Linked DNA regions of Homo sapiens: region 1 is linked to region 2. The links come from fine-mapping of genetic effects on gene expression. Tissue or cell type: sigmoid colon. Region 2 holds a variant in brackets; the other region holds the start of a gene. All regions are shown on one strand. Distances are between the middles of the regions.

Region 1 (8,109 bases), 65 kb after region 2:
ACTTACCCATGAGAGGCAAAGAACATTTGTTTAAAAATATTCTAACTTAGCAAGATCCCTGTCCTCCAGTCAATAGTTTTCCACTCAAACATATTATCTTCAGACAGCTAGAGGCTATGTTGTCAAAAAGCACATAAATCACACCTATAATTTCTTATCTTGATGGCCAAGTTTTAGAGCCCTTTGAAATGGTGCCCCAGTCACTGCAGTGAGAGAAGCTGCATTACAGACAAAATATAGTATAGACAGTATTTCATTAGGGAGTGGGTTTTGCTTTGTTTTTTGTTTCGCTCGGCCCCTCAAAGATGTCTGTTTAAGCCTCTCACCTGGTAGCACAAAAGCTGTTGAATCACTTGAATGAAAGGGTCAGGTTGCAAGCTGTGCATGTGTGGAAGCTGTCAAGCCCTGTTCAGACCACCCAGCTCTCCAAAGGAGTAGCGACATCAGATTCAGACAAGATAAGAGGCTGCCCTCCTATGTAACCTGGCGCAGGGAAACAGCCTTTCCAGGGAGTTACGGGATCCCATTGTAAGGAATGGCTACATGCCCTGAAAAGATTACACTTGTCTAACTCAATATTCCTGTGGTCATGGTGCTTTGTGAGAGAAAAAAATACATCTGAAAATTTTTGAAGAAAAGCAATTAGCGAAATCTTTAGGCCTATTCTCAGAGTAAATGCTGAAAAGCTCTCATAGCCCATATCTGTGTTTAGAAGACTGAGTCATATCCATCAATGTCAGAATATCAGAGCTAGGAAGATACCAAAACTCATTTAATTCAACTTATTTTACTGATGAGGAAGTGAAGCTTTGAGGGGTTAGATGGCTCTTCCAAGGCTGGTTAGCAACAACTAAGATTTGAAACACCATGAGGACAAGGACCCTGCCTGTGCATGCCATCCCCAGTGGGCATTCTGAAATCCTTAAAAACTATCACAGAGCCTGGCATGTAGCAGGTGCACCTAAATGTTTGGAATGAGGAAAGAAAAGAAAGCAAGGGGCTCTGATGGCCATGTCCAGTTTTCTTTTTAATATAAATATTAAACGCCAGAAAATGCAAGGATGGGGATGGAAGCTGAGCTCTGACTTTCACATATTGTGAAATGAGAATTTTAACACCATGGAAGAATCATTTTCTGTTTCTTCTCATCCCTGTGGGATGGTCCAATCCAAAAATCATTTTCTAGGAATGAGGCTCCTGAACCATTCCATGAAATCAAGCTCAGTTTACCCAAACTCAGCCTCGCCCAACCCCTACAGCCCAGCAGCCCCAGGAGGCTGGGAAAGAATTAAGAACAGTCCTGGGTTTAAAGTTTCCAAAACAAACATTGCTTAGCCATGCGGGGGCAGATCAGGCCATATAGCCCAACATGTGAAAGCAGGGAACATGGTAGTCAGGTCCCTTTGCCCAACTCCTTTTTTCCCTCGTGGGAATGAAAAGGCAGAGATGAAAAGGGAAGCAAGAAAAAAAAAAGATGAGGTTGGTGGAAAACTGATTAAAAAGCCCTGGTTTGCCAGCCAAGCATGCAAAACCATGTTGCACATTAAGTTATGCTCAACAACAGCTCAAACTCAGGTTTCTTATTTAGATATAAGGTTTAATATTAACCAAGTACATGACAAGAATTTCATGTCAAGGACAATGTAGAGCAATGTTTACCCAAGTGTGACCCACCTGCTTCAGAATCACCTGGGAAGATTCCTGGCACCACTCCAGGTCTAAAATCCTTTGGGCCTGGGAACTGAGAACCTGCCTTTCACCAAGCAAATGGGGGTTCTTACACACAGTCAGTTTTGAGAATGCCTGATGGAGAGAAACAGCAAAGTTTCCTAGAGCTGCACTGAAGGCACCTTTATCAAATGTAAGCAGGGGGCTGAGGCACAGCTCTTCAAGCTTTACCTAGAGTCAGGAACAGCGGGTGTCAGTTTTCCAGAGCAGAAACCTGAAGAGCATTCGAATCACTAGCTCTGTTCTGTGAAGCAGCACCACAGAGGTTAATCTCTCCAGTAAGATTCCCAGGCTATAAACACCAATTGGCTCCCAGAAATGCTCTTTTTAAGCTTTGTAATGCACACCAAGCAACAAGACTGGGTGCAATAGTTTAAAAAAAAATCAGAAACTAAAATTAAATACCTTAAAAACAATAAACAATTTCCATAAGCCAAAAATTGTTTCCTGGATTTCAAAATAAAATGAAAAGAAACTCTTTACAACAGCACCAAAGTCTCTGGACCAAATCTCAGTACTGAGCAGAGAGAGCCTAAAAATCAGTCCAAAAACTTCAGAACAAGGCCATTTCTTTGCCTCCCCAGCACTATCTCTCTTCCCCACAATGAAACAGAAATCATGTTTTTGAAAATATGTCTCCAAATATAACTAAACTTAAGCAAAGGTATCCAGACATTATCTCATCCAAATTTCTCTATGTTTGTACCATGAGGATATTATCTGTTCTGTTCATTTTTGTGTCTTTTCCCTTTGCCATTTCATTTAGCTGAGAAGAAACATTCTAATTTCAGAGGAAACAATTACACAGTTAAAAAATGGTTATTTCATTGGCAAGTGCCAGCACGGATGGACTGAGAAGAGTTAGAAATTTGTGTCACGTAATAAAAAGAATCTCAGTTTTGGCATTTGGTTTGTTAACACTGCAAGTTGCCATCTTCTGAGTTAACAGGAGAGTTAAACTTTTGCAAGCCTACTCTTGCAGATGCTTTGCATTGTTACTTGGCATTAATGATATCACACAAACAATCTCTGGGGCATTCTGCTAACAGAACATTCACAGTCACAATGAAAAGAAACACATAAAACAGATACTTACAGGTAGTGGTTTTCCTTTCCAAGACAAAAAGTTAGAAACCCTTGGAACTGGCGGGCAGGATAAGAGTCACTGACACAGCAATCTGGTTTAAAGGGCTTTGAGAGGAAGGGGGAGGAAAAAGAACCCCGGGAAGGAAGAGAGCTGAAATTCCAGTCTTTCAGGTCAGCTGTGTTTGAGATTTCTTTTTACTAAAAATCCATTAACCCACCTCACAGAAAATACAGAATTGAAGTTCACATACACACTCCACTTTCTTTGCTGGTCTTCTCCAAGGCAGCTGCTGCAGCTTTGCAAACTTCCTGAGCGCCAAGCCTCAGGACTCCCTGTGAGAAGGGCATGATAAAGATGCCTTCTACTGTTTACACAGAGCCCGACCTCCCTGGCGGACAGCCACCGCTAGCCCCGTGCCTTCTGCTGGTTGGGTCCGCAGGGACAAAACTGAGCTTTTGTTAATGAGGTCGGTTGCCTCTTCCCAGTCTCTTCCCAGCTTCCTTTCTCACTACTAGTTTTGTACTAACTGCTCCGCCACTCGCCGAGCCAGAGCAGCCTCTCCCGCCTGCAGCACACAGGCACACACACACTCAGACACAGGCACACACACATTCACAAATGGGCACACAGTCACATACAGACACACCCACTCACAGAGGTACACACACAGGCACACATACAAACACGATAGACACACAATCACCACACACAGACACATACACAGGCAAATGCCTTCACATGCATGCACACATAGTGACCCACCCCACACATGTGCATGCATTCTCACGCATGCTCCACACACACACGGGGGCACACACATACGCACAGGCCGCACATGCCCACACCCACACATGTACATACTCACACAGACTCTTCCAACACACTTTTTTTCTGCCCTTCTTTTCTTCCAACACATTCCCATCTTCAAAGGTTTTTATTTAAATTTAGATGAGAAGCCCAGCATTCAGAAGGGACAGGGCCCGTTTTAACTTTTGTCATGGCATTTAAGGGAAAAGATAGGATGGAACTAGATCCTAAGGTGCTGTTTTTAAGTACCACCTTAGTTCTTCCATTTGTAAGGCTTTTTGTGTGTCTGGCTCTTTTCGAAAACCCATAAAAATCCCATTAATCTGATCCATTTGCATATAGTGCGTGATCCCAATAATGCAGATATATCACTGGCCAAGAACTGTCCTCTCAACAGAGATTCACATAGTTAACTTGTCAGTATTCAGTGGTCTGTGAAAGTCTTAATCCTTAACAACTGTTTAATAAAATGCTTTCCTGTATTTTATTCCCACCAGGAAAAAAAAAGATAATGGCCTACCATCTGGCCTTCTAAATTAACCATAAAGAGAGAATTTGAAGTATTAACTCACTTTGGGGGAACTGTTTATATTAAGACATGTCTGGCTATCCTAAACCTTTGCCAAAAATATAGAACACTGTGAATCCAATTCAACCTAGATGTGGTTTCCCGTAACAAGGTCACAACACCATATGCCTTTCTTTGGAAGCCATAAGGAAAAGAGAGAGGAAAATGAAAAAGGAGAAGAAAATTACATGAGGAAGGAAGAAAGAAAAGAGAAAAATGTAAAGAAGAAAAGAATGCATAAGAAGGGAGAAAAAAATTATGTATTTTAAAAACATGCTTTGTGGTTACTTTAGCAATGAATGGTGCATATACACTTACTCAAAGTCATCGGAGATTTCAAATCTTCAAGAATTTCTTGATTCATTTTATTTGCTCTGAGAATAAGTAGGTGAAAGTTAAGAATCACTAAGCTCTTTATAAGTGAACAGATATTATTTACTAAACACAGTTATTATTAAATAAATATAGTGACAATGTGTGAGTCATATATTAATCCTGAAAAGGCAAGAAATAAAGCCTTAATAATGACAGTTAAGAAACACAGCATAATAGACAATTTTATTCCCCAACTGATTTTCAAAATTGCCCAGGTTGTGAATATCTTACCTGCAAAGAAATGAAGATGGTTTTAGAAGCTGTTAGTTGAGACTCGGATTCCATTTGACAAAGGAATTGTATACTATGTACAAACGGTTGCATCAACATGCTTATTCTAACATCTAAATAAGGTTTATAGATTAGTCTAGAAACTAATAAGGTTTATAGATTAGTTTATAGATAGATTATAAAGTTTATAGATAGATTAAGAGCTAAATAAGGTTTACAGATTAGTCTAGAAACAGAGATAAATGTCTTTATATCACTTCTATGGGAAAAATAACTTAAGCATGCTAAGCAAAAAATAACAAACTTAGATTGTAAAGTATTTCAAAAAGTCCGCAGGAGATATAATCTTTCCAAAGTTAATTATATACATGAAGCTTGGCCTAACTGTGCTGAACATATTCTGAAATAGGCAGTTAAGAGTTAGATCAGTCAAAATGTCCTGAAATCTGAAGTACCTGTTTATACAAATGTCATTCCTTCTATCTGCCACAAATGAATAAGGGCCTGGAAATAATACAATTATCAACTTCAATCAATAAAATACTGTTTGAACAGATTGAAATGCCAAGCTAGGGAATTTAAAAAGAACTAGTCAAAGAAACAACAAAGAATTCTTCCCCTAAAAGCATGTGCTGCTGAACTTAGTGCTGGCACAAAATTCATTTTTAAAGAAATCATTTTACTTCTAGCCCTAGTTGGAGTGATAATGAAAAATATCAAATGTGTGTTGGAGATTGGCATATCATTTTGGATTGTAAATATGAATGATTTTTGTTGAATTGCTGTAGAATGTAGCATTCTCTGAAAGGCATAGCCAATGCCTTCACCAACAATTCATATAAAAAATTAGGAATGTGCCTATTAAATTTTGACGATGGCAGCAGACAGAAGTGTTATCTATTGCAACGTAAAGATAGTTTTCCACTGAGTCTCTAACACTAGATGGCCATGGGAAGCAATACTATGGCAAGAGAAGAGGATGAGTCCAGGAATAGAAAGGTTATACATACCACAATTGAAATAATAAACATGAAAACAAATAAATAAAGAAAAGCAATACAAACACCTCTGTGTACCAGAAAAGAGCAATAACACAGCCGATGAGAGGGTTTATAGGAAGAGCCTTGCTGACCTCAGACTTGGGAGCTGACAACGTGATTAGGGGTTATCAGGAAATAAAACCACCCCTGAGCAGGGCACAAGAGCAGCGTGCTCTGCTTGCCATGAGAGCGCTACCGGCCAATTTGACTGTCAACATGAATGCAAAATCCTAAATAACTAATTTACAAATCAAATTCAGCTCTGCTTTTTAAAAGACAACATGACCAATAGCGATGAATTTTTCTTTCAGGATTGCAAGGATGTTTCAAAATCAGAACATCTAGCAGTTTAATATATTAAAGAAGGAAAAAAGGCATGACTATCTTAATAAGTGCAGAAAAAAGACATTCAGTAAAATTTAATACTCATTCATTAAAAAACCAAAAACTGAAAACTATTAGCCAACTAGGTCTGGAAGGGAAGTTCCTAAATCCAATTAAAGACATCTTACTCCAATCTCCACAATTCAACATTGGATAGGAGATCCTAACCAACACAGTAAGTCAAGATAAAAAAATGAGGCATAAAAATTTAAAAGGAAAAATAAACCTTTCATTATTTGCAAAAGATAAGAGTCTCTGTACAAATATGCAAAAGAATTTACTGTTTGAACTATTCAAAGAGTTCAGCAAGTTTGTTGGACATAAGGTCAACATACAAAAATAGATGGCGTTCATATATACAAGTAACAACTAATTACTGAAAATACTTTTTAAAAGACAGCTTTTATAATAGCAGCAAAACTTTAATGAGCCTGGTAATTCATCTAAATTAATTAAATTTGGGTAAAATTTCATGAAGAAAATAAAAAATTAATAAAGGGCATAAAAAATCTAGATAAATGGGAAGATAATATCAAACTGGTTGAGAAGACTTAATAATGTAAAAATGTCAATTCTCCCAAAATTAAAATTTCAATGCAGTGTCAATTGGAATGCCAACAAGGCATTTTATATAAATATGTGTACACATATACACATTATGTACATATATGTTATATATGTATATTATATATACTATGAAATATATAAATTATATGTATTTATATATTTGTATATATTTTGTGTGTGTGTGTGTATGTGTGTGTGTGTATATATATATATATATATATATATATATATATATATAAAATGACAAGCTGATACTAAAATTTATCTAAAAGAATAAAAACCAGGAATGGCCAAGACAAATTGAAGAAGATACATTTAATGATTAATTTCCCTGCTAAATATTGATATTTTATATTATAAAGTTTTAACAATTAAGAAATTGTGGAATTTTCACAGTGATAGAAGGCAAAGAAAGAGTCTAGAAAAGCTTGGAAGCAGGTCACTCACATATAGCAACCTGGTGTATGACCAAGGTCAGAATAGAAGTCAGTGAAGAAATAATAGACAATCAATAATACGTTGACAGGACAATAGGTTATCCATATGGAAAACATAGCATCAGAACTCTACTTCATATCATATATCAAAAAACATTAGATCTTTACCTCATACTATACACCAAAACAAATTGCAGTTGATTTGAGTATCTTAATTTGATAACAAAGCCTTTAACTTTTGGAACCAAAAAAATCAAGGAATATCTTCTTAATATCAAGGGAAAATTTCTTAAGTGTGATACAATAAGTAAAGGCTATAAAAGAAAAACTTGATATATTTTATATAATAATTAAAATTTCCCATGGAGCAAAAACTTAAAAGTTTTTTTTTAAAAAAAAAAACAGAAATTGGGAGAAGGTACTGAAAATGAAAATAAATTACAAAATCTTTATGCTCAAAATTTAAAGAAGCTTCTGAAGCCTATACAAATCATTAAGAAAAAAATCTTAATATTCTCCTTTTATTAAAGGAGAAGACACACAAATGGCTAATAAATACATGAAAGCATCCAATTACACAAACAATCAGGCCAGTACAAATGGAGACTAAAAATGAGACTCTCTCAGATAAATAAAACGTTTAAAATCTTACAATAAATTAAATCTGGTAAATTAAATAAATTAAATCTGGTAAAAGATAAGCGGGGGGAAAACTCTTAGTTGCTACTGGAAGTTTTAAATAGACACAAACACTTAGAAAGTAGTCTGACCATTTCTAGTAAAAGTAAATATTCCAAAAACCTTAAATTAGGCATTTTAACTTCTAGAGTTACACTTAGATTCTCATATGTGTACAAAAAGTCTTATACCTGACATTCTTTGCCA
Region 2 (8,109 bases):
TGTCTTGATATATGGAAAAATTAGCATTAGAAAAATATTTTCAAGAAACTTACTCTTATTTCAAATATACAAAGTAACACTAACTACTTACTTGATCCCTATTTTGTCAAACTCCGGATCTACCTACTTTAAGAAGTAGTTACAAAATGATTCTAACAAAATGTAAACAAATGTTATTCATGAAATTATCAATAATCTAGAATAGTCAAAAAATCTCCTTTTAGACTAATTTGTTCTATCACCTTGCTCGGCTGACTTAATTTTTCATAGTGTAATGGTTACTTTGAGGCTCAGCTCTGGAAATCTGTAGATGCACAACCTTGGACAGATCAAATTAACTTTCCTAAATCTCAGGCTTCCTCATTATGAAATGGGAATAAAAATACTATCTTACTTCAGAAACTTGATGTTCACCTTAGGACAAACTCGGACACAATTTCAGCAAACCCAGAAGGATGCATAGAAGGTTCTCTATGGAAGAGTGAATTCCATTCAAATGATCTTAACTGCCCAGAACTTACCTATCAGTCCTGGCCCTGGCTTCTTCATGATCTCCCCAGCCTGTGGAGGCTTTGTGATATTGAAGAAGATGTAGTCATCACTGGCGTCCACATCTGAAGCTCGCAGCATGGATCCCTGGATCAGGATGGTCTGCCCCTCCTCCAGTTCAATCACAACATTGGTTATGAGGAACGGGGGACTATCATCTTTGGGCAAGACGTTGATGGGGAATTTGTGACGGATGCTGTGATGGCCATCAAATATCCGGAAGACCACGAAGTCTTTGGTGGAGTCGCTGTCATCATGATGATAGCGAACAACTCCAGCCTGGAGGTCAGCCACGGTGAAGAGAAACCCTTTCCCCCCTGAGGGAGAGAGCAGAGATGGAGCAGATTGAGCAAGGGAGTGCAGAAGCAGCAGCTGTGGGGAAAGCATCAATACAGTAGAGGCTGCTAAGGAAAGTGTGCAGCCCGTATTTCCCTCACCTGGAAAAACTACAGATTGTTAGTGGGTTCTGGGAGAACATATCTAGTTTTGAATACTGGCTCCAACATTTATCAGTTGTGCAGATTTGAGCAAGGTATTTAATTTATGAAACTCATCTATAAAACATGGATAATACTACTGTGATGGTTTTAACTTTTTCCATCAACTTAACTGGGCTAAGGAATGCCCAGACAACTGGTAAAATATTATTGCTGGGTGGTTCTGTGAAGCAGTGTTTCTTGAAGTGATTAGCATTCGAATCAGCAGACTGAGAAAAGATCACATTCATCATTGTGGGCAGGCATCATCCAATCCATTGATAGACTGAATAGAACAAAAAGGAAGAGGAAAGGGGAATGCTCTGTCTCTTCTGGAGCTGAGACTTCCTTCCATCTTCTTCCCTCTGACACTGGAGCTCCTGGCTCTTGGGCCTTTGAACTCTGGAACATAAACCAGCCATCCTCTAACACCCTCATTTGTGCCTCCACCCTCCACCTTCCCTACCCCACTCACCCCTCTCCACTCCCCTTGCCCATCTTCTCAAGCCTTTGGCTTTGGACTGGGTTACACCATCAGCTTCCCTGGTTCTCGGGCCTTCAGACTAATACCCATGACTTCCTGGGCTTTCCTGGTTCTCCAACAGCCTAACAAGGAACCTCTCAGCCTCCGCAATTACATAAGCCAATTCCCAGAATAAATCACCTCATAGATAGATAGGTAGGTAGGTAGGTAGGTAGGTAGGCAGATAGATACATACATACATAGATAGACATTCTGTTGGTTTCATTTCTCTAGGGAACCCTTACTAATACAAATACTTACCTCATAATCCACAGCAAGAATGAGAGAACTTAAGCAACAGTAAGCCTACAATAAATGTTGGTTATTCTTCAGCTAATTGCTACCATCTTACATGGCAGCAGTTCTTAGAGGAGTGGTCTCAAACCAGCAGCCTCAGTACCATCTGGAAAGTTTTAGAAATGCAAATTCTCAAGCCTTACCCTGGACCTGCTGAATCAGAAATTCAGGGGTGGGTGGGAGGGAGGCAACAACCAGTGTTATCAAGCCTATTTGAAAATTACTGGCTCAAAGACCAAGAGCTAGAGCTCTAATATCTAACAGTCTGGGTTCAAATCCCAGTTCTGCCATTTTCTAGGTGTGCAACCTTAGATAAATCAGTTGTTCTAAGTCTCAGGTTACCCATTTGTAAAATGGGAATAATAATAGTATCTAATATCATAAAGTTGATATGAGATAACAAGTTAAAGTATACAGAATGCTTTCTACAGTGTCTGTCACAAAGTAAAGCTTAATAAATGATCACACTATTTTGTGTCTCCTCTGAACCCAGACCATCAATGCATTATGGTCTCCCACTCTCCATTTCATTGCTGTAGTATTAATAAACATTGCTTTGTTTTCTTCAGATACTTACAACTCTTCCTTTTTTTTTTTTTTTCTTTAGACGGAGTCTCCCTCTGTCGCCCAGGCTGGAGTGCAGTGGCGTGATCTCAGCTCACTGCAACCTCCACCTCCCGGGTTCAAACGATTCTCTTGCCTCAGCCTCCTGAGTAGCTGGGGCTACAGGCACGCACCACCATGCCGGGCTATTTTTATGTTTTTAGTAGAGATGGGGTTTCACCATGTCGGCCAGGCTGGTCTTGAACTCCTGACCTCAAGTGATCTGCCGGTCTCGGCCTCCCAAAGTGCTGGGATTACAGGTGTGAGCCACTGTGCCCGGCCAGAGACTTACAATTCTTAATGGCAGGTGCACCCCATTATTCTCTTCACACCACGTGGCTGTGTTAAAGACCTTAGAGGAATAAACGATTTAACACTGTCTTGACCAAGATCCACTTTATGCTTCTTCCTCACTACCAGAATCCTAGTTGTATTTGGCATAGCAATATGGTCATTTAAAAATACTCAGGCTTCCCGACTTGCTTGCACTGAGGAGTTGTATGTGACATAGTTTGATAAAGAAATCTAAGTGGAAATTGTTGTATTGTGCTCCTAGGAAAACTTGTTAGATACAGCAAACTTAGATCATGACTTCTTTCATTGTTCCTTCTGGGTCTTCAAGCCTCAAATACATGAAGAAAATAACTAATT[T/C]TCAAGCCACTACACTTGGATTTCTCTTACATACAAGCGAACACCCAACCTGACTGGTATACCCAGATTTAAACTGGCCTCCCACTGTCCTGAGATTAAGCAGGAGGATTTATCATACATTTATTATTTTGTTTTTGATTCCAGAATTCCCTGCTCACAAATGATGGTGAGAGTTATCTTTCTGCATTACAGTTAGGGAAACTAAGAAGATAATTGAATTAAATCCTCTGAGTTCATTATAAGGAATGACTTATTTTATCATAAAGTGTAAATATTACTTTTATTAGATTATTACCTTGTTAACTATCATCCCATAGAATTATAAATTTATTTCTTTTAAACCATGACAACTACTACTAATAACATAACATCATTATTACTAAAGTATTAATTAAGCATTAATTTTTCTTTTTCTTTTTTCTTTTTTTTGAGATGGAATCTTGCTTTGTCACCCAGGCTGGAGTGCAGTGGCGTGATCTTGGCTCACTGCAACCTCTGCCGCCCAGGTTCAAGCAATTCTCCTGTCTCAGCCTCCCAAGTAGTTGGGACTACAGGCGCCCGCCACCATGCCCGGCTAATTTTTGTATTTTCAGTAGAGACGGAGTTTTACCATATTGGTCAGGCTGGTCTTGAACTCCTGACCTCAGGTGATCCACCCACCTTGGCCTCCCAAAATGTTGGGATTACAGGCGTGAGCCACTGCGCTCGGCCTAATTTTTCAATATACTTCTTTGAAGCAGAGAAATAAAAAACATTCTGTCCTCCAACTGGGAAAAAAATAACTAGTTAAGGAGTATACTTACAAGAAGCCATGCATGGCATCCAGAAAGCAAAACTGAGGTTTAAACAATGAGCCACGTACAAGGTACCATTCATAAATGGTTAGACATTGATCTGAGCATTTGAACACAAAAGTCAATGATTTCAAGATCTCCAGATTTTCTGCATTTGACAATTTCATTGAGAAATTGGGCCCAAGAGATGCTACATATATCTGTTAAATATATCTACTTTTGAAGAAAATACTTTTGGATTCTTTGCTAGGTTACCAAGTTGGATCATTCACCTCTTAAAGTCAGCCATCCATGCTGCAGGCCACCAACGGTGACTAGCCGGACAGCACCAATGTCGTCATTGTCGACAACCTGAAACTGTTCCCAAGTGATGGCTCGAGACTGCCCCTCAAGGAGACTCAGACCTATGAAAGAAAGGAGAAAAGGGTGTTGGTATCATAGACTGGATAAAGAAAATGAGGCACATATACACCATGGAATACTATGCAGCCATAAAAAATAATGAGTTCATGCCCTTTGCAGGGACATGGATGAAACTGGAAACCATCATCCTCAGCAAACTAACACAGGAACAGAAAACCAAACACCACATGCTCTCACTCATAAGTGGGAGCTGAACAATGAGAACACATGGACACAGGGAGGGGAACATCACACACCAGAGCCTGTTCGGGGGTAGAGGGGAAAGGGGAGAAAGAGCATTAGGACAAATATCTAATGCATGAGGGGCTTAAAACCTAGATGACAGGTTGATAGATGCAGCAAACCACCATGGCACATGTATACCTATGTAACAAACCTACACGTTCAGCACATATACCCCAGAACTTAAATTTTTTAAAAAAAGATAAGAAAAGGGTATTGGCAAGTTCTATGACATGCCAACGTGCCTGCTTAAGAAAAGATGAGTGAATTTCCACTCATGAAACCATCTGAATATTGCATCTATAAAAGCTTTTCAAGAAACTGGAATGTAGCTTTTATTTTTAGTACTATTTTTATTTTTAGTACTATTAACTCCAATATTACAACAGATTACAGATAATCCTGAAAGGGAGCAGAGCAAGCTGGTCGAATTGCAAGGTAGCGTGCTGCTGGACTTATCTTATGCTTCTCTCACATCTGCCAGCTTCACCTGCCATCCCGGCCTCGACCAACTGACTGTTCTCTAGCTGCAGCCGCCCCATGAGGGTTCCCAGTCTCCAAAATTGTAAAGCCCTCCTGCCACCACTGCCTCATCTTCTGATGCAGCCGGCTACCTCCACTGCCCTCTAGTGGCGGCAGGACCAACCTTGTGGCTGATCAGGCCCTGCACCAGGGGACCCAGGAAGTGTGTGCAATGGCTGCTAAGAGGGGCCAGATAACACAATCTGGGCATGTGGGGAGTTAACAGCCAGTGAAGTAAACTTTAACCCATTAAACACAGGAGATGGGAAATAACTGACCATTAATAGATTGTTGACCTTTTCCCAACCCCACTTCCAACTCTTACCAGACACAGCAGTTGCATCTTCTCCCTGGAGACATCAACACTGCAGAGCAATCTGCTTTATCTTATTGTAAAGCTGTGACACCAGCTCAGCCATGCGTTTTTATTTGCTTCTCCCCTTACTCTTGCTTTTAGTATAGGGTTAGTACATCTGATCTGCCTCGGGGTCTGTTTTCTAGGGAAATTGGGCTAATACATATATAAAGGAGAGGGAGAGAGAAAAAGAAGGAAGGAAGGAAGGAAGGAAGGAAGGGAGGGAGGGAGGGAGGGAGGGAGGGAGGGTGGGAGGGAGAAGAAATGGACAGAAGTGCATAAGAAGAATCTCTGTGACTGGCAATAAGGGTTTGGAAGCCAGGAGTGCATAGGACAAGGCATCACGGAGCACAGCAGAGGAACAATCGAGAAGCCTAGAAATATATACAGCAAAATATTAACATTGGTTATATCTTCACGGCGAAATAATAATTTTAGATGCATTCTCCAAATTTCAACGATGGCACAGATCAAGTTCATAATAAGCAAACATTTATTTTAAAAGGGATTCTGATGTTCAAAGCAGCCAAAATGACATTGAGCAAACCTGGGTGTCACCGATCACACATACACGTACAGACTATTCCATCTCTACACTCAGGCAGGAGCCCATGCAACATGTGATTATTCCTAAACTTTAGGTTACTGATTCCATCTTTTCTCTCATTACCCCCTTGACAGAGGTACAGTAGGATGTATAGCCAGAATTATAAATCAAGGCTGCTCACCTGATGTTCTCTATCTCTGCTGAAACTCACACACATACAAACACATATCTATGTGTACACACACGAGGCAGCTCGTTTAAGCTGCCACCTGAGGATTTAAATCAGACACAGATATTTTTTCCTTAATACTATCTACCACCACTGCTTATAAGTATGTTTCAAATGGTATTGATGGGATCAGTGAGAAGGAAAAGATCTCCATTTACATTCCACATTTACATCTGATCAACATATACATATATATATCACATAAGTCCACTCAGAATTGAGAGGCATAGAAAGCCATATTTTAAAGCAGTTAAAGCTCTTATTTACATATTTTAGTTTCCATGCAGCCCAACATAAAAATAGACTATAGATTATAAAAGCTAAACCTTTCTCCAATCCCTTGGAACAATTTGAGTTGGAGATTTCAGTCCCACTACAGCTCAATATCACAAATAGTCAGTTTTTTGCTTCATTCAGTTGAAAAGTGTCCCTTTGTCTTATCTCCGGCAGAGGAAAGAACTTGGCCTCAGGACGCAGAAATCCTGGATTTAAATTTCTCACGCTGCCAGGAGGAATAAAAAAACAACAACAAAAGCTACTATGTGATGCCCTTAATCTGTCTGGGTTTCAGTTGCCACATGTATGACATAGGAATAAAACTACCTTTCTTTCCTGACCCATCTACTTTCTTGTATTCCCTTCAGGGCTATGTTGCTCTATGCCTTATATTGAGCTTTACCTGTATTCCAGGATACACGGGGGGCATTTGTATCTGCTGTTCTGATGGAGATGTGGACTGTCATAGGTGCACTCCTTTCAAAGAAGAAGTCGTATACCTCCAATTCTACCTGTAAACAAACAGAGGCAAAGGAGCCACACACTGAAGCGTTACAGGGTAAAGTAGCATTAATTCTGGGTTATACCCACACACAGTGGATTCAGTTTTCTGCGGGGATTCACATTTCTGCAGTTCCCACATCTCATTTAGACATCCTGATTTGACTTTTTCAGGTTCTAGATCTTGTTCCTTACTTTAACGGTATTTTTAAATTTTCTTCTACATAAAAGAATTTATTAATCTAAAATTGGTAATATGCTGGAGAAGTGTCTCTGCACTTGCTTAGGAGACCAACCCCTTCCCACATTCAGTCACTTAAATCTTTCTCAAAGGTGGAGGATCTAGAGAAGTGGTTTTCAACTAGGGGTGATGTTGTCCCACTACAGGACTTTTGGGAATGTCTGGAGGCATTTTTAATTTCAGAAGTCGGTGTGTGGGAAAATGCTATTGTCATCGAGTGGGTAGAGGCCAGGATACTAACATCCTACCGTACACAGGACAACCTCCCAAACAAAGAATTATCTGATACAAAATGGCAATTGTCGTACTGCTACTATCAAGAAACCCTGATCTAGAGACATGTATTTCACTAGACATATTTTTAAATATCTCAACTTTATTTGCTTTCATGAAATTCATAACTAATAAGTAAGTAGGGGCTGCGTGATAAGTTTTGATCTTTATTATGTGCTGTGTATGTATTGCACCAGATGTTGACAGAGAAGAATGAGGTATAACACAGAAATGCAAGGCATACTCCCTACTTTTGAAGAACATGTGGTCCATGGAAGAGGATAAGATAAATAATCAAACAGCACTATATCAGCAAACACTAAATAACAAAAGAAACTGATTCAAGGCTGCCAAAGCAACAGACTGAACAGGAAACTACATGGGCAGGAGGTGTCTTTTTTGGAGGGGTAATGCATTCGGTTGGGCCCTGGCCCAGGGCTTCCAGTCCACACAACCTGAAAACTGTGTGATCTCCACTGAAAAAATTGAGAGTTACTGTCTAACGAAAAAAATCACACATTCGCACAGGTTCTGCTTTAAGAGTACATTATACAATGCCAGAAACTACACACAGGAAGAGGCCAGAAAAGCAGTGCTCTAAGATTGGATGTGCAATGAGAAATTACT

The links. PIP is the estimated chance that this variant, and not a neighbour inherited with it, causes the effect.
Region 1: it holds the start of FREM1, and the variant in region 2 is fine-mapped to the expression of FREM1 in sigmoid colon (GTEx, PIP above 0.99).

What each region holds. Positions count from the first base shown.
Region 1 is chr9:14,907,090-14,915,198 of GRCh38, forward strand. It overlaps FREM1 (FRAS1 related extracellular matrix 1), which reads right to left and starts at 3,339. Exons shown (of 37, transcript NM_001379081.2): 1 at 2,825-3,339. RefSeq lists enhancers at 113-653, 1,603-2,104.
Region 2 is chr9:14,841,795-14,849,903 of GRCh38, forward strand. FREM1 (FRAS1 related extracellular matrix 1) reads right to left here. Exons shown (of 37, transcript NM_001379081.2): 7 at 6,871-6,979; 8 at 4,166-4,297; 9 at 522-866. Among named protein-coding and RNA genes, the nearest start is that of FREM1, 65 kb to the right of the region's middle. The variant T/C (reference allele first, on the strand shown) is at 3,100.